Linked DNA regions of Homo sapiens. The protein of the gene in region 1 purifies or fractionates together with the protein of each later gene. This does not show direct contact. Each region holds a gene or a part of one and is shown on either strand. Other genes may lie near its edges. The genes, in order: INSIG1, ERLIN2 and SREBF2.

Region 1 (7,106 bases):
TATATAAAGGAAACACCCAATTTTATCAAAGCATGGTGATGCTTAGGGTATGATAGGTTCCTGAAAGTTCTAACTGCAATTTAAGGGATTGAACCTTTATCTGAAGGGAGGTTTCTGCCACAAACCTTTATTAGTATCTGATGCCTGTGTTATAACCCACCTTACCAGCAGTTTGTTGAAACAGACATTGGAAATAGGTCATGCTTTGTAATACTGAAGCTCTGTGTGCCCTCAATTCACACAGAGCTTCACAGTTGGGAAATCCTTTCTACATGTTCTTCCTCATCTGACCCTCACAGAGCTTCTGAGAGGTAGACACTACAGTTACTACTATGACCAGGCACCTCAGGGTAAATTCTTAATGGAGAACAGTATTTCACTGATGAAGAAGCAAAGCCAGAGAGATTAAATGACCTTCCTGAGGCCACGGAGCTTCTGCTAAAGGGCAAAAGAGAAACCTCCATACAGAATTTTTTTCCCTCAGAATCGTGACTTCCCACGTTACTTAATTGCCCTCCACTCACTTTAAGAGGAAGGAGCTGAGCTCCTCACCTTCAGCAATGACGGAGATTACTCATCCAGAAAACAGCAAGAGCCTCTCATCTGAACAGACAGGTAAGAAAGTCATGAGTCTGGGTTGAGTCACCCAGGTATGCCAGTTACTACCCTGGGGACACACACAATAAGACCTTCTAGGAAACATACATGCTTTTAGGAATTGATCATGTGAAAGCACTGCCAATTTTTAGATATGAACACTGGGAGGGTTCTATACAAACTGCGGTGAGAAAACAAAAGAGCAAACTCTTGGCAGCAACCTGGAAAGAAAACTGGTCATCACATTTGACTCCCTGTTCACTAATGTGCTGATAAATAAATGGGAAGTGGACTTTTAGAATCCCTGGTCGACAGAGGCCACAGTGAGGCCTGGCAAAGACGCCAGAGACGAACGACAGCCAGCCCGGGCGGACCTGACACGTGGCACAGGGACTTCCAGCAGTGTTGCCTAATGGTGGCACATTGTAAATGGCAACCCAGACACCAACACAGGCTGCTGTAAACCTGCTTCCAGGGTGAAGGCAGGTGCGAGCTATGTGTTGAAAGGGCAGTGTGGTATGCTAATGAGAAGCACGGTGCCACGTCGACCTCTGCCACCCACTTGGCCAAGTTGTTTAATCTTCCTAAGCTGCAATTTCCCCTTTTAAAAATGGGCTAATAATAGTTTCTACTTCAAAGACTTGTGTTATGAGGACTAAACTGGCTAACAATGGAAACGCTCAGCACAATGCCTCCTGTGCAGCAGTAAGAGCCCAACAAATGTAAACCCTCAATAACAATAATAGTATTATTATCATTAGCAGCTGAATTGGGTCAATCAAAAACAGGAACGGCAAATCAAATCCCAAGCTGACACTGAGGTGGGCGGGACTCTGCCTCCAGGTGGCCCAGTGGGGCCGGGCAGTGGCAGCAGGACAGGCTTGATTGCTGTTGGCAGTTTGCAGCTTACTCTTGAGAAAGGACTTGAAGCTACAAACAGCAACAACTACAAGTTCTATAAATGATGGTTACAGACTCATTTTCTTTTAAACATACAGGCTGGGCCGGGCGCGGTGGCTCATGCCTGTAATCCCAGCACTTTGGGAGGCAGAGGCAGGTGGATCACCTGAGGTCAGGAGTTCGAGACCAGCCTGGCCAACGTGGCGAAACCCCGTCTCTACTAAAAACAGAAAAATTAGCCAGGTGCGGTGGTGGGCGCCTGTGATCCCAGCTACTTGGGAGGCTGAGGCAGGATAATCATTTGAACCTGGGAGACGGTTCAAATGCAGTGAGCCAAGATTGTGCCACTGCACTTTAGTCTGGGTGACAAAGCAAGACTCCGTCTCAAAAAAAGTAAAAATAAAAACAAACAAAAAGCAAACAAAAAAACCGTAACAGGCTGATAACAAATGTTTCTGCTGTATTTTCGGACACAAAGGACAACGGCATGTGTGGGGGGAAATACCACATAGAAAAAGCTAGGAGACCATATAACTTGAAGCAAAGCCAACTTGTAACTTTTGAGCATGGTTATTCTTGCAAGTAACTATGTTTCTTCTTAAGGGAGGGAAGCATAAGTTAGAACAAAGGCATCTGAAGAGAACTGAGACAGCTAAGAAGGAGAGGGTGTGGAGTGCACTGGGCAAAACCATCAGCACCAAACACAGACCTCAAATTACCCTGGATCTGGGCGGGTCTGGTCCCGGTGCTGAACTGAGCCTCGGAATCTCTTCACCTTCAGACTGTCAACAACTTCACTCTCGTCATCTCCCTTCACAAAGCCTTACTTGGTGTAGGTTTCAACCTTAAACCAATAGCTCTTAGACACTATCCCTGGAACATTCAGCCACTTCCATTTTGTGAGTCAACAGTATGACAAGAGTGGAATGTGGGGAAGGCTGCCCTGGGAGAAAACACGCACCACGAATGCAACCTGGGGCACAGCCTGAGGAACGGATGCAGCAGGAGGGAGGGGACTGCACTGTGAAGCCCCTGGGCCATTTCCGGGGTTTGATGGATAGAAATGAGTTTGCAAATTTTGAAGTGAAAAAAAGAGTAACAGTTGGGATCCAGAGGTAAGGATTTAAGTATTTATGAATAAAAACAGTGGTAGGCGGGTTAGGCTTAGAACCTCAGAGGTCAGTTTCATGTGATAGCCCAGCAGGGAAGGGGATTAAGGTGGTGATCTCTCTTCTCCAGTTTTTTTTTTTTTTTTTGAGACAGAGTCTTGCTCTGTCACCCAGGCTGGAATGCAGTGGCACAATCTCGGCTCATTGCAAGCTCTGCCTCCCGGGTTCACGCCATTCTCCTGCCTCAGCATCCCAAGCAGCTGGGACTACAGGTGCCCACCACCACGCCTGGCTATTTTTTTTTTTTTTTTGTATTTTTAGTACAGACGGGGTTTCACTGTGTTAGCCAGGATGGTCTCGATCTCCTGACCTCGTGATCCGCCCGCCTCAGCCTCCCAAAGTGCTGGGATTAAAGGCGTGAGCCACCGCGCCCAGCCTCTCTCCTCCAGTTTTAAGATACGAGAACATCCAAACATTTTCCCCCAAGCTTAAAGAATAAAAAGGATGAAGAGAAAGCTGAAGTAAGGAGAATTATAATTACACCAACTATCCTATTTTGAGTTATCTTTAACATTTTTTTCTGTAAGCAAAGGAGCACAGCAGGGATTACTTAATGAAACTATCTTCAAAACGAAAATGTTTCCTCCAACCATTTCTAGATGTTTAGAACTTATGAATGTTGTGAAATTTCTACCTCCACCAAAATAATGCTTATTTCTTAAAACCGATTTAAAAAGCCTTGACATATAACAGCACCAACCTATCAAACAGAAATAACCAACTCTTTAAATGTTATTCAAGTTGTAGTTATAATGTGTAATTAGTCAATCTGGTTGAGGACAATTTTATTCTAAAAACCTTCTTAGGAATTCTCTCCCAAAGAGTACCGAAACAAAAATCTCAAAGCAAGAAAGCAATGATGGAGTTGCCAGCTCTCCTTTGAAGACTATTAACGGGGATGATGGCGAATGCATGAAAACAACATACTATTTCCATGTGGGACCATCCGACCAGATTTTTAATATTAAAAAAAGCAAGGCCAGGCTCACGCCTATAATCCCAGTGCTTTGGGAGGCCAAGGTGGGAGGATGGCTTGAGCCCACGAGTTCGAGCCCGGCCTGGACAAGGCAGGGAGATAACATCTCCACAAAAAGCAAAAAAGTTAGCCGGGTATGGTGGCATGTGCCTGTAATCCCAGCTACTCGGGACGCTGAAGCGGGAGGATTGCTTGAGTCCGGGAGCTCAAGGTTACAGTGAGCTATGATGGCACCACTGCACTCCAGAGCTCTGTCTCAAAAAAAAAAAAAAAAAAAAAAGGCAAGCAAAGTCCTTTCTTCTCCATCATGAGAAATTTGGCAGCAGAGAGTCAGTAACCAGTGGAAGACTGCAAATTCTACCTGTAATTACTTCTGGTTTTGTGAAACAGCCAAGTGGTCTTCAAATTCAACTCCTCACAGAAGGGTATCAGCTGGCAAAAATAAATGTACTGTTTTAAAAATAGCATGAGGTACTAAGATAAGTTTTCCCAGAGCTTATCTCCGAGAGCAACAGCTCTAGGTTTTTGTTGTTTTTTTTAATTTACTTTCTTTCAGCCTGCCAAAGTCAACTCAAAATAACATTTAAAAGTCCACCTCTATGTTTTTAAATTGAAGTGCTAAGATGTCAATTTTTAACTAATGAGAACTGCTAAAGCCATCCTGGAGTTCACTACCTTTCCGTCTCCCTCAGGGGGGCTGTGAGAGAAGCTCTGCGGGGTAGCACTGCTTTCTCCTGCAGCTGAGAACAGATGCAATGTTCAGGCAGGACAGTCCGTCTACATGGTGACCCGGCCACGTGCAGCGGTGCTCTCATCACCACTTCTCCATGCCCAGGGCCACCTGCCCCACAGAAAGGTGCTGCCTGCCTGAACCAGGCTGTCCCCTTGCCCACCCACATTAGTCCCTGCCCTGGCCCGAGACAGACTCTGCAGCCTCAGGCTCGATTTGCTTGACTGTGGACTAAGAGGCCAGCATCATCTGCATCCACTCTGATTTTGTGAAAAGAAACACTGGTGGACTGATGCTCAGGGAGCAAAGTATCACTGCATGAGGTCATCCAGATCTGCTTCCGATGGTGAAGGAGGAGGGGACACTCACACACCAGTCACTTTCTCTACTGCTTACTACAGAAATTTCAAGAATTCAGAACACTGACCACATCTGCAATTCAAAGGGGCAGTGCGAGGGCTCTAGTTCCTTTTCTAGATCAAATATTATGAATTTTTATAATTTAGCAAAGAATTACCTGGGTATCATTACCTATTTTTTTAAATATAAGCTTTTCTCAGTAGTTGTCACTCAAGTCTGAACCAGAATATATGAACGCAAATTTGAATGTATCATGTAAAGTCATTCTATCAAGGTAAAGAGACGCAAGTTTTAGAAGATAATATGATCATTTCACTTACCATAGCTAACTGTCGTCCTATGTTCCCCACCGTGACGCCTCCTGAGAAAAATATACAAGGGAGCCAAGAACGAATATAGAGGAAATCTGGGGATGTATACCTGGAGCGAGAAAAGAAACTGTACCTTAGCAGTCAATTTCACCTGGCTCAATTCTACATCACAGATTCTCTGTAGTGGGGATATGCAGAACGCATATCAACCATCCAATGTTACGAATGTTCATATTTGTTTGGTTGTAACTGCTACTACTTGGTTTTCCTTTGCGTTACATTAAGTTATGGATAGCAGCATTTTTGAGAATTTCATGCCTAAATCTGTATCATTCTATATAAAAAACAAATAAAATATGAAAATATCTAAGCTTAGTGGATGTTTTAATGAAAGTTAAGTAAGCTTTCCAAAGCCAATATTTGAAAACACACACTTACTGATAGACACCATTATACACGAGAAACTGCGTGATCAGCGTAGCTAGAAAAGCTATGGTGATCCCCAGCCCAAGGCCACTTCTGGAACGATCAAATGTCCACCAAAGGCCCAAAGATAGGGCTGCTAAAGTCAAGGACAGCTGGACATTATTGGCAAAATCCAATTTCTGGTGATATAAAAGTTAAGGAAAAGTTTGCTGACTCTTATTAAGATAAAAAAACGTAAAACCACAAGGGTTAAAAACATGGGTATTTTATTATTGTACCACAGATAATTCACTGTCCATAAAAACTGTGTAATAAGCTAAAGAAAGGATTTGTTGGATACAGGTTACAGTAATCATTAAGATCACCTGAAATCTCCCTGCCATCACTGAGTCAAAAACTTAACCATAAGAATAAACTTGCTGAAAGCTATATATAAAGTGCTTATATATATTTATATAAATATATATTTATTATATATATTATATATATTTAAAAATATATATAATATATATAAAAATATAAATAAATATATATTTATTTTGACCATAAAACAATATATTTTACTATGAAGTCATCGATAGCCCCATTCTTCTTTCTCTTTTTAGTAATCTGAAATGGGTAGGTACCACCATCATGTCTGTATTATGACATGGAGTCATTTGAGTATATAACAAAACAAAACGCTTCAATATATAACCTAAGAAGATACTCTGGACGTAGCACAGAAAATTAAGGATACAGCACTGGCGTGGTTAATGCCAACAAAAACTGCTATGCAGCGCATGACACTGGCCCATTCTCTCTTAAATTTGTGGGGTTCTCCGAGGTGACTGTCGATACAGGGGTACAGTAGGCCAACAACAGCTGTTTTAAAAAAGTTGACAATGTTAGAATACAGCAGATTCAAGTTCCAGAATTTCAACGTGGTCATTAGTAACACAGTACATTACTCAAACCAGTCCTTTTCCTAGAAAAAATTATCAGCTATAACTTCAGAGTGATTTTATATTCTTGTTCTCTTTGAGTACCACTCCCACAAAATTGTACTGTTTGGAAAAGTTTTTTAAAAATCACTATTATTTAGTGTAGTTGAACATGTCTCAGTAAACACAGGAAGGAATCAAGCAGGGATTATTCATATTAATATGAGCAATATGTAACCTTATATTTAATATCCACATTTGCCTAAAGCACACAGAACTTAAATGACTATGTAGTTCACCTTGTCTTTTCATCCGGTGTGATTTCTATCTTACAATAAAAAGGTTAGCATCTGTCCACACCCTGTCACATCACAGCTCTGACACTCCTGCCACCACCCAGTACTGGGGCTGGGCACGTGATGAGATACATATTTGCTGATGTGACTTTGACAGTCTGGGTCACATGCTCCTAGAGTGGCCCTGGAGTTGATTTTCGGGGGTTCTAGCATGTTCTGTACGAGGCACTGAGCACCTACTGTGCACACATGCACATGGGCAAGTACGGGGCGAGACAGCCCCACACAGGCTTCGCTTATTCTCCATCTGGTTCCCGCATGGTCAAGCCTCAAGCTGCGGAAAGAACACCAGACCAAGAAGAGAAAACTCAGCCTCAAATCCCAGCTTGCCCTCTGATGGGACGTGGCTCTGCATGTT
Region 2 (7,952 bases), on another chromosome or scaffold:
TCGTCTCTACTAAAAATACAAAAATTAGCCAGGCGTGGTGGCAGGCACCTGTAATCCCAGCTACTTAGGAGGCTGAGGCAGAGAATTGCTTGAACCTGGGAGGCGGAGGTTGCAGTGAACCAAGATCTCACCACTGCACTCCAGCCTGGGCAACACAGCGAGACTGTCTCAAAAAAAAAAAAGATAAGAAGTCTGTTTTACTTTGTCATATCTGTTGGGCTTGTGGCAATCCATTAGGGCAGTTAAGTCCAGTAATATGGTTATCAACTACCTGCACTAATGCTGGAGTCCAATGACATGACCAACCAAAAGAATAATTTGAAGTACTTTATAAATAATTGAAATATATGTTTTGGCAATAGAGTTACCTTTCTAATCAAGTTATATGTAAATGATGAAGTTAAAAGCCTTTTTGGGGAACATGTAAGCAGATGATGGGGAGAAAGAATTAAAGGAGAGAGGAATTCCAATCAGAGTTTTAGAACTTGCTGTTAGCAATCCAGAAACAAGCATCACAACAGCACATATAAGAAGAGTTCATAAAGACATAAAGCAAAACACTTGGTCATGGAGGTTACTAAAAAGAAAGCAACCCAAGACTTATAAGTGCTTCTTTGCTTTATATTAGGCAAAGAATTAAAAAAAAAACCAATAAAATAAACAGTGACATAATGGGTTCCTTTATTGTAGGAACCACTATCCTAAGGCTTGCTTTGATTGACGTAAGTCAACCTGCAGGCTCTTTCATTTTTCTTGAAATGTTAATATTATTTTATTTTTAGAGACAGGGTCTTGCTCTGTCACCCAGGCTGGAGTGCAGTGGTGTGATCATAGCTCACTGCAGCCTCAAACTTCTGGGCTCAAGTGATCCTCCCACCTCAGCCCCCCAAATAACTGGGATTACAGGCACGTGCTGCCATGCTCGGCTAATTTTTTACTTTTTGTAGAGATGGGCTCTCACTATGTTGCTCAGGCTGGTCTCAATCTCCTGGGCTCAGGTGATCCTCCCATCTAAGCCTCCTGAGTAGCTAGGACTACGTGTGTGTGACACCACAGCCGGCCAATTAAAATTTTATTTTTTATTTTATTTTTTTAGAGATAGGGTCTCACTATGTGACCCAGGCTGGCTGAAATGTTAATTTTAAAAGAGCATCCCAAATTAGCAGAGTAGGCTACCTTCTCAAGTTGCCATCAAGAACTGGTACTCAGCTGGCTTTTGTAAAGGTAACCTAGCAGTGTAGAGCTAAGACTGCCAGAGGGATGTAGAGCTAAGACTGCCAGAGGGATGTAGAGCTAAGACTGCCAGAGGAATGTAGGAGAAAACAGTATTTTAGGGATGATCAATGAGGAGCACCAGTTTCCTTTAGATTTTGTCTCTAAATCTATATACACATTTATTAATCACCACCCATGGCATCATCTTGGACTACTAAGTGAAGTTCTAAATTTACATATATATGTGTGTGTGTGTATTCTCTTTCCCGTGGTTACTGACATAAAAAGCTCCATCTGAAAAGGCTCCCCTATTCAAGGAAATATAAATAGAGATGTTCAGCAGAATCTGCTAGGAAAGCAATGACCAGGAAAGGGAGCTATTTAACAGGAAGTTGCCGGCTTCTCCCTGTCTCTGCCTTACCTGTAATATACCCCAATATGTCCCTCTTCTATCTTGTGCACAGCTGAGAAGAGAGATGCACAAAAGAAACTGGAAGCCACAGCCACAACTGCTCCCAACTGAGCCATCAGTGAGCCTTTATCCTAGGGAAAAGACACGGGAAAATGTGTGTGGTCCAACGTGCAGGAGAAAAGGCCACAACAGCGAGAGGACCTCACCAAGCTGAGCTCCCTGCGAGTGACTCATATCCAGCCTGGTGTCGTGTGAACACAAGGCTAGATCTACAACTCGCTTCCTCCTCGTTCTCAGTCAACGTTCCCCTTTCTTTAACTGTAAAATTAGAGCCCCCACCGCACTGAGGAAGCACTGGCTCCGGATACAGCCGTTGCTCAAGGGAGAACCCGTGCCAGCTGGGTAGGGTTCAGAACACAGCCTTGTCTTCCTGTGAACACGAATGTGCTGTCACTGAACCTTTCCTACCAGTAGTAGGGAAGAGAGGCAGCTGCAGTACTTTGGCCCAAATTACAGAGGATGCCAAATGACAGGCAGTTGTGGCTATGTAATTCTGGTCAGAGTCTCCCACTCCTAATTGCCTGCAGTTTCAAAGGAAACCATTATTTACTCCTTTCAGATGCTGGAGTGGCAGAGCCAGCAGGCGAGCAGAGTTTCAAGGTAGGATTCGTTGGCCTCGCATCCACCTTCCCAGTTATTCCTTTGGCCCTAAACAGGACAGGGCTCTGAACAAGCCTGAAGCCACACTCCCCCCCATATACTTTGGCACTTTGCACCTGACAGATCCCCAAGCCCGTGGTCAGAGAGAAAGGCAATGTCCCAAACTGCGAGCCTCTAGGCTCCTAGGTCCAACCGCGTTCAGGCACCAGGACGCGGAGGAGTGGGATCCTGAACGCTGAATGATCTGGAACTATGGTGACTGACTGCAAAGTTCAGCTGTGCGTGCGTGGGCCCGTGAGCGCAGGGCGTGGATTCTGCCTCCCAGGTCTAACGTAACCGGGGCGCGGACATCTGCGAGGCGCTTATTTTACCGTGGCGGCCTCCGGCTACCGATCTGCAGTTGCGTCCTTTCCTGCCAGTGCCCTTCCCTCCCCGAGGTCACTCGCGCCCCTTCCCCGCCCCGTTCCGAGAGAGGGTCAAGCGCCCTGGTCTGGGGCTGCGGCTCCAATAGCCTCCGCTCGGTCCCCCTGCGGCTCGCAAGGAGAGGACGCGACAGAAAAGGGTTTCTGTCTCTCTCCAGGAGCGGGCCGGCTGAGGGAGAGAAGCTGCTGGGACTGAGGTTCCCGAAAGTGACGGGTCAGCCCCGACCCTGAGCGGCAGCTAGGCCCAGCGCGCGCACGAAGGGGCGGGGGCCGCGTACCAGGCTGTCCCTGCAGGCGCTCCGTACTCGTCCGAGCCCACGAGCAAGAAAACCGTCACACCCCTCAGCACGCGACTTCCTTCCGGGCCGTCGCTTCGATGACGCCATCAATTCACGCGAGAAGACCACACCCCCGCCCCGCGCTCGCTCTGCGCCCCGCCCCTCGCGCTCCCAGCGGTCAATGGCCGTAGCTGGCCGCCAGGGATCGCCCGCGACTTGGTCGGTGCGGTCCTGGACCTCGGTCTTGGGTATCCGTCCTGGGGCTGGGGATGAGGGCGGTGTTGGTGGGAGCTCCCCGAGAGCGAGCGGCAGGACGCGCATGCCCCGGAGTACTGAGACCCAGGGCGAACCTTTCCAAGGCGTTGACTTTGGGGATTGCTCCGGATTTCCTTCTGCATTAGGCCGAACCTGGTTCGTTTTGGTTTTTTTAGAGACAAGGTCTCGCTCTTTTGCCCAGGCTGGAGTGCAGTGGCACGATCATAGCTCACTACAGCCTCGAACTCCTGGGCTTAAGCGATCCTCCCACCTCACCCTGCTGAGTAGCTGGGACCACAGGCGCACGCCACGACACTTGACAATTTTATTTTTAGTAAAGACAGGGTCTTGGTATTTCTGGTCTCAAACTCTGGCTTCAAGCAATCCTCCTGCCTCGGCCTCCCAAACTGCTGGGATTACAGGCATGAGCCACCATGCGCGGCCTTTTTTTTTTTCTCTCCTTGATAAGGTACTGGCGAGTTGCAACTGTTTGCTTTCCTATAGCACAGCTGAAATGAAACAGTCTTTTCAATGTACAGATTAGCATCATTACCTCACCAATCAAAAATCCCTACCTTGAGTTGTTCTTTATATTTTTCTGGGAGCTTTGGCCCTTGGGATCCTGCAACGCCACAAAGTATATTAACAAGGAATTATTATTCTAATTTTAATGAACGGAATCTAAGAAGTTCAGCGAGGTTCAAGGGTAAAAGCCAAGGAAAGTTTCCTTTGTGTTTCCTTAATATCTTGAGTTCACTGCTTTTTAAACTCCTGCCACAGTGCACAGGGGCTAGTGCACTTCGTCTTTCTAGATAAACTGTACGTTCCCGGGAGAGCAGAGACTGACTTTCCTTCCGCACCCCCGGGGCTTAGGTGCCCAGTAAAAACAGACTGAAGGCAACGTGGGACCAGGCCCGGAATCCAGAGTTTGTGTCTCCTAGTCTAAGGGCCTCACGTTGTCCTCCACCTGCCCTATTCACCAGCATCACATTGGGGCATTTCTAATTCAGCCACTGAGGTTATTAATATTTTGTTTGCAGGAGAGAAAGAGTCCACTTAATTATAGCCTTCAGTAAAAGAAAAACTTTTACACCGGGAAGATGGCAAGCTGGTGGTGTTAGACAGATTTAAGACTCAGGAAAAGGGAAGTGTGGTTTTTTCCAGGCATGCCTGCTTGGGATTGGCCCGTTTACCTTTCCTGCGTTTGCTCTGGGTGTTGGGATGTTTCAGCATTACATGGTGAAACCCATACGAGGGTTACATGGTGCTGTCTGGGAGCTCTGTGCCCATCTCCATAAATGAAGGCCTTTCATCTCCCTACTCTGTCCCTGCATCCCCCACCCCAAACAGACACAGCTGGCCAATCTCTCGATCAATCCTATCAGAACTTGAGTTTTTTCTCTCCCTGTTCAGTGATATAACCTCAGCTGGGCATGCTTATTTAATAGTTTATTTAATAATTGAGTAAGAAAAATGGAAATATTAGGGTTCATCAACCCATGAAATGGGGGCTAGCCTGCAGCATCAAGTATTTAAATTACTTGTAATTTAAGAATTTCCTTTAACCAACCTCTGGCAACCCGTCTCCCCTCCCCTTCCCACAAATATGTATATTATTATGTGTCAATTAAAAATAATAAAAACACAAAAATTTCCTCACATTAAACTTTGGAGTGAATTGTGGCTAGAAGTTTTGGGATTTTGTTCTTAGGAGTCATTTTACCAGACCTGAGTTATTTAGTTGTGGACGTGCCTAAAGGCAGGGGGATGGACTTCGTGATGTGCTAGTACATGATGATCTAGTACTTCTGAAAATCTCTTTCTTAAGAGACCTGTGATTTTTATGTTACCCAGCAGATACATTTGTGATGATTTGTTTAACAAAAATGTTTACAATTTCTTTTTCTCCTTCCTTCCTTCCTTCCTTCCTTCCTTCCTTCCTTCCTTCCTTCCTTCCTTCCTGTCTCGCTCTGTCACCCAGGCTGGACTGCAGTGGCGCGATCTCAGCTCTGCAACCTTTGCCTCCCTTCAAGCGATTCTCCTGCCTCAGCCTCCCGAGTAGCTGGGGCTACAGACGCATGCCACCACGACTGGCTAATTTTTGTATTTTTAGTAGAGATGGGGTTTCACCACGTTGGTCAGGCTGGTATTGAACTCCTGACCTCAAGTGATCCACGTGCCTTGGGCTCCCAAAGTGCTGGGATTACAGGCGTGAGCCACTGCGCCCGGCTAAAATTTTATTTTTTAAAAAACCTCACAGTATAGAGTAGTGATTTAGCTCAGATACTTCACAGTCAGGCTGCCTTGTTTAAATCCTGGAGCCTGCCTCTTATTCTGTAACATTGGAAAAATGATCTATCCCTGCCTCAGTTTCTTCATCTATAAAATTAAAGTAATAATGGTATGAAACTTATAGGACTGTTGTGAAAAGCATATACAACATTTGGTACATTTTAAGTGTTCACCAAGTGTTAGCTGTTGCTGTTTTAAATAGCAAATTCCCTTAATGTATTCTTGCATGTTTGTGGGTTATCATTGCAGATTATTAATGTGACACAGGGCGAGAGAATGATAAACTTTAAGTTGTATGGTATTAAATAATAACCAAATGAAGGCTTATCAGAAGAAGAGATAAAGGCTTCTGAAATTATACCTCAATGGATATTTACAATACAGATTTCATAAAGCTTTATTGAATACTGTCTATGTATCAGCCCCAGTACCTTACATTTTCTCATTTTATGTAAACTTTAGGTCAGCCCTTTGAGTTCAACTCCATTTTAGAGGAGAAAGTGGAAGCTTAGAGAAATTAAGAGATTGTCTAAGATCACGAAGATGATAAATTGCAAAGGCAGAGTTCAAATGATCCCGTCTATTTCTTTTTTATAGTGAATGAGTTAGAAAATGATTCAATTTCAGACACAAACACACACACACACCCCACATTTATTTCACATGTAACCTTTCAGTAATGTAGATCAGTGGTCAGAAACTGAAATTTTTCTAATTAAATTGGGCCAGTTCATTTTGCAGTTGTAGATTGAAGCAGGTTAAAAAATACTCTCACCTAGCAATCCATAGTTTTCTATTTCTATTGCTGTTTGTTGGGTCCTCTTACCAAGAAAATTGTTAGTGAGAGTGCCATGCCAAAGAAGAGACCCCTTCTTTCACAATTAGGAATTTTTAAGTCAATTTCACAATTAGACTTTTTAAGCCAATAAGCAGGTCCAAAGGATTCAGGCAACTCTTAAAATCTTCTGCTTCAGTTCAGTTCAGTATCACAAGAGTGGAAGTTGCTGGAAAAAGTTTCCGTTTGATTTAAAGTTTATCTTTTTCACTTTAGGCCCTAAAACAGGGAATAGAAATAATCTTTTAGAACATTTGATTCCAGTAAGATTTTGGTGAGCTTATGGGAAGAGGAGTGAACTGTATCCTTAGTTATTAAGGGGGCTCAGAAATTTTTCCTCTTTTCTTTTTTTTTCAGTTGCAAAAACCGGGATTGGTGCCTTCCAAGAACAAAAGCATATTTGCTTGGGGCTAATGATGTTTCTTCAAGGCATTGGGTAAAGAGATCAAAGAGCCATCAGGAAAAAAATTGAGTTGAAAGTCAGCTAGAAGGCACCTAAAGGTCCTTTTGTGATTACACATTTTTACAGCTTTATTGAGATATAATTGACATGTAATAAACTGTTCATAAAGTCTACAATTTACATTTTGACTTGCAAATACCTGTGAAGCCATTACCACAATCAGTATAATGAACACATGCATCATGGCCCCAAATTTCCCCATGCCTCTTTGTAATCTCTCCCTCTTACCCCTCTTTGGTACACCCCCTTTTCGATTCTCAAAAGACCACTGATCTTCTTTTGCCACTCTAGATTAGTGTGCATTTTGTAGAATTTTATATGCATGGAATTGTATAGTATGTACCCTTTTTTGTGGGGGAGGGTCTGGCTTTTTTGAAAACCCAGAATAATTATTTTGAGATTCATCCATGTTGTTGAGTCTATCAAGAGTTCATTCCTTTTTATTGCTGTGTAGTGTTTCATTGTGTAGCTATACAACAATTTGTTTATCCACTCACCTGTTGATGGACAGATAGGTTATTGCCTATGATTTTAATCCAACCCATTTATTTTACTTGTAGAGAAGTCCAGGGAGAAGAAGTCTTCAGAAAGGGGGCTTGGCTAAGGTTCCTACTGCATTTGAGGGGTGATGAGAAGAGTAGCCTGTGACCTTGAGATTTTGTTCCAACAAGCCTGGCAGTTGCATTTTGGCTTGGCCTGATTTGCCTGGGATGACCTTTCCTTTGACATCTCTAACCCTCCAACTCTGAACTTACAGTAACAGGAATTTTTTTTAAAAGATTATATGAAATTTTATCTACATATATGTATTTACACATCTCTCTATGTCATTGATAGACTTCTTTTTTGCTGTATATAAGAGATACCTTGTATACGGCGATGTGAGTCTCAGAGGATAAGGTAACCCATGTTTACTCTAGGCCAATCTTTTTTCACCTGGTTTCTTAATCGTATCCCTCCTCTTTCCTCAGGGACCTAGAGCCTTTAATTATCTCCTCTTTCTACCAGTTCTTTAGCCACAGCCTATAATCTTGTGCAATTTCTCCACGCCCTTCCCTCTAAGCCTCTCCGTTGATCCTATGTAAGCCTCTAGTTCTTACCTGATTTGTCTCCTTCCCTT
Region 3 (7,106 bases), on another chromosome or scaffold:
ATCAATGCATCTCAATGTATCTATCTGGGATCAAGATGAAATGGTCTTGTATTCATTATCAAATAAAGTCATGTGTCACTTGACAACAGGATTCATTCTGAGAAATGTGTCATTAGGCAACTGCTTCATTGTGCAAACATCACAGAGTATACTTACACACACCTAGATGGTATGGCAATAGCTCCATTATAATCTTTTTTTTTTTTTTGAGACGGACGTCTCGCTCTGGTGTCCCAGCTAGAATACAGTGGTGCGATTTCAGCTCACTGCAACCTCCACCTCCTGGATTCAAGCGATTCTCCTGCCTCAGCCTCCCACGTAGCTGGGATTACAGGCTCATGCCACCACGCCCGGCTAATTTTTTGTATTTTTTAGTCGAGACAGGGTTTCACCATGTTAGCCAGGATGGTCTTGATCTCCTGACCCCATGATTCACCCGGCTCGGCCTCCCCAAGTGCTGGGATTATAGGCATGAGCCACTGTGACCAGCCCCTCTTATGTTTTACCTAACTGGATTCTTGCGACAACTATGTCGGAGACAGCACCACCCTGGCTTTGATCCAACAATCCCACTTCTGGTAACCGCTCCTGCCTCTAGACTTGCACATGTGTGAAAGGAAGAATTTACAAAGCTATTCGCAGCATTGTTTTTAATAGCAGAAGACTGAAAATACCTTCAGATGTCCATCAAAAAAGGACTGGATGAATAAATTACAGGGCATCATCAAATGGAAAACCATGCAGCAGTGAAAAAGTCTGGGATGATCTATAAGATACATTGGTAAGCAGAAAGGAAAAGGCAAGGCACAGAAGAACAGGGCTTATAGCATGCTAACTTTTTCAGTCAAAAAGGAAAGCAAAGCAAAAACTAAAATCAATATTTGTTATTAGCTTCTTTTGTAATAACAAATACATTTTGAAGCAGGTAAAAGAAACTAAAAATTTAATTACTTGTGAGGGAGCGGTGGGACTACGCAGATAGTGGGTAGGGCCGGGAGCAAGACTTTTCATAGTACCTTTTTATGTATTTTATTTTGATTCATATGAATGTACTATCTTTTAAAAAAATAAAAATATTTCCAAGTTGTAATTCCCAATCACCATAGTAATTTGCAGCACTGGAAATGTTTTTAAAATGAAAGGGCTACAGCTGATAGTGTGTTACCCAGCTGAACTTGAAGACTCCTCTTTGGAAGATACACGCCCATGAACAAACTCCCAAGTGACTTGTTCACAAGTATTCAGAACAGTGCTTATGTTAAGAAAAAACTGCAAATGATGAAAATGTTCAACAGGTACACAGGTGTGCAAGGGTTTGCCTATTCAGATGGATCACATTAGATTATATGGCTATTACACCTCAACTACTTCAACATACAGCAATCCCTATGTGAAAACACTGTGATATGTACGCAGATAAGCAATGTTCAGACGAGAATCCAGAAGGATACGGACAATTTGATATTTGCAAAGTTCTAATTGAATAAAACTGCTTGAGAATTTCCTTTTTTTAATTACAAATTTGAGGAGTGAAATGATCTAGTTGAGAAAGAAGCAAAAATATATATTTTTTAAAATGCCAAAATATGAACTGAATATGAGAGCTACATAAAAGCCTATTCAATGAGAGGCAAGCAGCATTCAAGAACATTAGGCCAAAGGCCTGGGTGTGAATGTGGGGAATGTTTGTCAAGGGCGAGGCCAAATAGACAGAGGAGGGAGGAGAAACCCAAAGGGACTCTAGTGCCGTGATCTGAGCAACCTCCAAAAACATATCCCAGGAAATGTAACTGGATGAGACCAGGAGACAAAAATGGGTGGAAAATAAATAAGCTGTGGACAACAGCAGCTCTTTCAACCCAAACGTTAGCAACCCTCATATATACTCCAGTGTCAAAACATACCTTATGTCTTTAAAAAGGTACAAAAGGGATGAAAAGCAGATCTGTGCTTCATCTCACTGAGCAGTTTTTCCAAAGCATCCCTCCCTGGAGAAATGTGAAGTCAGTTTCCACTCTTCTCCCACCTCCACCTCCTAGGGGTGTGCTGACCACAACCATCCCCAACACTCACTCCTAGCTCAGCCAGTTGGCCACTCCAACTTTCCCAATGGTGTGAACACCCAGACTGAACTTGAGGTGCTTTCCTTCCCTCATTAGACACACCTTTACAGAGTGCCTATTCAGTGCCAGGTACTGCATGCAGGATACTCTGCCAAAGATGAAACTGGGTGTCTGCAGAGAGAAGCAAGCAGAGGCCCAAATCAGTGCCATGGAAAGGCTCAGGTACTGGAAGTTCCTCTGCAGGCTCAGGTGACAAGGAGGCTGATGGCAGGGGGACTGCATGAATTCAGGTATCAGACACAGCTCTCCAGAGCCCCAACAAGTTGGGACAGTGACTGTCGGCCCAGTCACATCAAGGCACGTTGTCATGGAATTCAGAACATAAAGACAGGATCCCAAAAGCTTCCAGAGAAGAAAACAGGTCACACAAAGGATCAAGAATGGAAATGGCATCAGATTTCTCTACTAGAAGCAAGAAGATAATCAGACAATGCCTTCAAAATTCTGACATAAAACTCTGTCCAACCTAAAATTCTAAACTCAGCCAAACTACCAAAGTGGAATGAGGTTGGTAGAAAGATGTTTTTAGACAGGCAAGGCCTCGAAGAGTTACCTAAATGTACTCTTTCTCAGGAAGCCACTGGAGGATGTGCTCCACTAAAATAAGTGAGTAAAAATCAAGAACTGGGAAAGAAGAGCTTCAACATTGCCCCCAAGGGTGATGGTTAGGGGTTGTCCCAAGATAAGTGAAGGGAGAGCAGACCTAAACCATAGCCATCAGATGGGACAGGAAAGAAAGGAACTGACCACCACATTGCAAGTTTCTGTCACAAGATTTAGGGCAAATTAGTTACAGGAACATAGAAACTAAGCATGTGGGCCGGGCGCGGTGGCTCACGTCTGTAATCCCAGCACTTTGGGAGACCGAGTCGGGTGGATCACAAGGACAGGAGTTCAAGACCAGCCTGGCCAAGATGGTGAAACCCCGTCTCTACTAAAAATACAAAAAATTAGCTGGGTGTGGAGGTGGGTGCCTATAATCCCAGCTACTTGGGAGGCTGAGGCAGAGAACTGCCTGAACCCAGGAGGCAGAGGCTGCAGTGAGCTGAGACCGCGCCACTGCACTTCAGCCTGGGCGACAGAGTGAGACTCCGTCTCAAAAAAAAAAAAAAAAAAAAAGAAACTAAGCATGTGAATAAATGGGACTATTTATTATAAGCTCTTGGAAAACATAAACAACAAAAAATGTAGAAGATCTACCCAAGAGAAATGAACATATATGTCCACACAGCAACTTGTACACAAGTTTGTAGCAGCTTCATTCATAATGTAGCCAGAGTGGAAACGGCCCAAATGTCCACCAACTGAAGAGTAGATAAAACAGAATGCGGTGTGTCCATGCAATGGAACACTACACTGCAACATGATGAACCTAAGCAATATTATGCTACCTGTCTGATTCCATTTATGAGTTGTCCAGAACAGGCAAACTCATCAAGACAGAAAGTAGATCAGCTCATTGAAAAAATTATTCTACTTTCTCCAAAGAGAACTACTTGCTTCCACCTGCCCATCTCCCACTCACCCCTGCTTCCTTTCTGCCTTGGATTCCCTCATCTGACTGTTCTGGCAAGGTTTGGCCTCCTAATACCAAGTCCCACGACTCCTTGCATGGCCTTGTCATCCTTGTTGTTCTCTGTGGCATTGTCTCCACCATCTACAGACTACTCCTTGAAAAGCTAACACTTTCCTAACCTCTAATCTCCCAGTTCTCTCCTCTTGACTCAGCAGTGACTCTCTTCAATCTCCATCCCAGTTTTACCTTCTCCTAAGTATCTACATCTCATTTCCTAATGGATGACCCCCAGGCACCCCAATTTCAGCACAATTAAGATAAATTTTCATCATTTCCCCTAACCAGCTCTTTCTGCTGACTCCTAACTCCCCCAGTGCTCCAGGCTCAAAGTCTTAATGGGATCTTAGAATTCTCCCTCTGCTCTGCCTTCAGGGACAAGCCTTCAGTGAGGACATGTCCTGTCACATCCCCAACACTCACTCCTTGCTCACCCAGTTGGCCACTCCAACCTTCCCAATGGTGTGAACACTCAGACTGAACTTGAGGTGCTTTCCTTTCCTCATCAGACACACCTTTACAGAACACCTAGTCAGTGCCAGGTACTGCAGGGTACTCTGTCAAACTGGGTTTCTGCAGGGAGAAGCAAGCAGAGGCCCAAGTCAGTGCCATGGAAAGGTATTTGAATGAGGGCCACTTCCCATCCAAATTTGTCACCCTTCATCACCTCACACCTGGATGGCTACAGTTTCCTAATTGGCCTCCCTGCCTCCAATCTTCCTTGCCTATCACCACCGTTCAATTTTCTTTTCTTTCTCTTTTATTTTTTTGAGACAAGGTCTTGCTCTGTCACCTAGGCTGGAGTACAGTGGCACAATCTGGGTTCACTGCAACCTCCGCCTCCCAGGTTCAAGCGATTCTCCTGCCTCAGCTTCCCAGGTAGCTGGGGTTACAGGTGCCCACCATCATGCCCGGCTAATTTTTGCATCTTTAGTAGAAATGGGGTTTCACCATGTTGGCCAAGCTGGTCTCGAACTCCTGACCTCGGGTGATCCACCCTCCTCGGCCTACCAAAATGCTAGGATTACAGGCATGAGCCACTGAGCCCAGCCCACAATTCAATTTTCTTAAAAACCCATGATTAATATGTCACCCCCTACTTGAAAATCTTCAACAATTCCCTATCTTCCATAAAACACCTTGCATCTACAGTACAATTTAGCTCCACCTCACCTCTCAGACCTCATCTTCTACTGTTTCCTCACACACACTATATTCCAAGAAATCTCTAGTAAACTTTCATTTCCAAAGGCAGCTTGTTCTAACTCCTCCCACATACTTGTCAGGCTGCTCCTGCCACCCATCTATTTGGACCCAGCAAAAAGGTCACCTCCATGACTGTTTCTTTCCTGATCCCAGTGGAAGAGGATCCCACCTTGCTGCCCTTCCAGAAGACCTGGTGTGTAATGGCACATGAGGCCCTTTCTCAAAATAGAGATATATAACACAAAATGAAATGGTAGACTTACTCTATTATGGGAAACCTGGGGGCCTGGGACAACAGGACGTTCTGCAGTAGTACAAGACCCCAGAGATCAACTAGCACACATGCTTTATTGGGTGCCTATAGTACTTTTTTTTTAAATGAGCCAACATATAAAAATCTGGGTATTTCTTTCTTTCTTTCTTTTTTTTTTTTTTTTTGAGACAGAGTCTTGCTCTTGTTGCCCAGGCTGGAGTGCAATGGCGCGATCTCGGCTCACTGCAACCTCTGCCTCCCGGGTTCAAGCAATTCTCCTGCCTTAGCCTCCTGAGTAGCTGGGATTACAGGCATGTGCCACGACGCCCGGCTAATTTTGTATTTTTAGTAGAGACGGGGTTTCTCCATGTTGGTCAGGCTGGTCTCAAACTCCCAACCTCAGGTGATCCACCCGCCTCGGCCTCCCAAAGTGCTGGGATTATAGGTGTGAGCCACCGTGTCCAGCATTTTTTTTTTTTTTTTTTTTAGACAGAGTCTCATTCTGTTGCCTAGGCTGGAGTGCAGTGGCATGATCTCAGCTTACTGCAACCTCTGCCTCCCAGGTTCAAGTGATTCTCCTGTCTCTGCCTCCTGGGTTGCTGGGACTATAGGCGTGTACCACCATGCCCGGCTAATTTTTGTATTTTTAGTAGAGATGGGGTTTCACCATATTGGCTAGGCTGGTCTTGAACTCCTGACCTCAGGTGATCCGCCCACCTCGGCCTCCCAAAGTGCTGGGATTACAGGCATGAGCCACTGTGCCCGGCCAAAAATCTGGGTATTTCAAATAAAAATCCAGACTTCGGCATCTCTTGAAAAACAGACACTGATACCTCTCTTCCAAGAAGCCTCCCTGGACTTCCGAATCTAAGTAGGCTAGCCCAGTCACACTCTATAATATGGCCCAATTTTATTTTGCTCACAGTGCCCTGCCTAAACTGTTCATTTATTTTACTCAACTTGTATTTCCTCCATCAAGAATGTAAGCTTCGTGAGAGAGAAGACACATGATCTGTCGCGCTCAAGTTATCCTTTGTCCATCATGAATACTTAGAAGCCATTCAATGAGTAAATGAATGTGGCCTCCCTGAGCCCATATCCTTGAAGGGTACCAATGGACTGGAACACAGCAGACATTGTGGAATGAATGGATCCTTGCCTGCCTGCACCTCCTGGAGGCTCTCTAGGTTGCATCCACCCCTTATCCCCACCATACACATACAAAGGAAGTAAATGTACTCACCCTGCCTGCCTCTCCCCTTCCTCACCTGACCGGCTCCTAGAAGCATCCAGGCTGGCTATTTCCTTGATCTAATCCAACTCCAAACCATGTCCAAGACAATTAGTATCCTGCCCAGCCCAAGATCACTGGATCACTCAGGCATTCCACAAATATTTAATGGGCACTCTCACTGTGCCAGGCACTGTTCTAGGTTCAAAGAATTTAGTGGGAATGAAACGAAGGTCTCTGCCTCAAGGAGCTAACATTCAGTAATGGGAACACAGGGGTGAGAATCAAGGGATAATTTTATCTTCAGACCACTGACCTTCAGCATGCCCAACTCTTTTTGTCCTCCAAGGCCCAGGTCAAGAGCCACCTCTTTGGTGTGGTCTTCCTGCTAAGCCAGCCTTTACCAAGCTACCCTCACTGCTGACTTTTACTTGTTGTGCTGTGCAATTTTAAGCTGTTCCATACTGGCACTAGAGTTTCTCATCTCAAGCTCCATGAAGCCATAAAATTCTATGCTATCTTTCACGATTCCTTACAGCTCAGAAACCACAGCCAGCACTTGAATACTTGTTGATCAACTGAAGACATGGAACCACTTTTCCCAAACCTGGCCCCTAGGTCTCCTGTGACACAACAGCCACACCTCTTCCTTGTGCGGTATATAACTATTTTGAGAAAAAGCCTTATGCACTGTTATAAACCAGGTCTTCTGGAAGGACA

Evidence for each region.
Region 2: the proteins of INSIG1 (region 1) and ERLIN2 purify together in Homo sapiens (affinity purification with western blotting; 4 studies listed by BioGRID and IntAct, with this or other methods). This does not show direct contact.
Region 3: the proteins of INSIG1 (region 1) and SREBF2 purify together in Homo sapiens (affinity purification with western blotting, with the first as the bait; 2 studies listed by BioGRID). This does not show direct contact.

Annotation. Positions count from the first base shown.
Region 1 is NC_000007.14:155,300,793-155,307,898, reverse strand, and holds part of INSIG1 (insulin-induced gene 1 protein), read right to left. Parts: intron 6,334-7,106; coding exon 6,209-6,333; coding exon of another isoform or gene 6,179-6,208; intron 5,649-6,178; coding exon 5,482-5,648; intron 5,153-5,481; coding exon 5,053-5,152; intron 4,075-5,052; coding exon of another isoform or gene 4,004-4,074; intron 1-4,003. UniProt on the Homo sapiens protein: Oxysterol-binding protein that mediates feedback control of cholesterol synthesis by controlling both endoplasmic reticulum to Golgi transport of SCAP and degradation of HMGCR.
Region 2 is NC_000008.11:37,731,714-37,739,665, reverse strand, and holds the start of ERLIN2 (erlin-2), read right to left. Parts: upstream 3,033-7,952; 5' UTR 2,988-3,032; exon of another isoform or gene 2,238-2,987; intron 1,759-2,237; 5' UTR 1,744-1,758; coding exon 1,637-1,743; intron 1-1,636. UniProt on the Homo sapiens protein: Component of the ERLIN1/ERLIN2 complex which mediates the endoplasmic reticulum-associated degradation (ERAD) of inositol 1,4,5-trisphosphate receptors (IP3Rs) such as ITPR1.
Region 3 is NC_000022.11:41,836,093-41,843,198, reverse strand, and holds part of SREBF2 (sterol regulatory element-binding protein 2), read right to left. Parts: intron 1-7,106.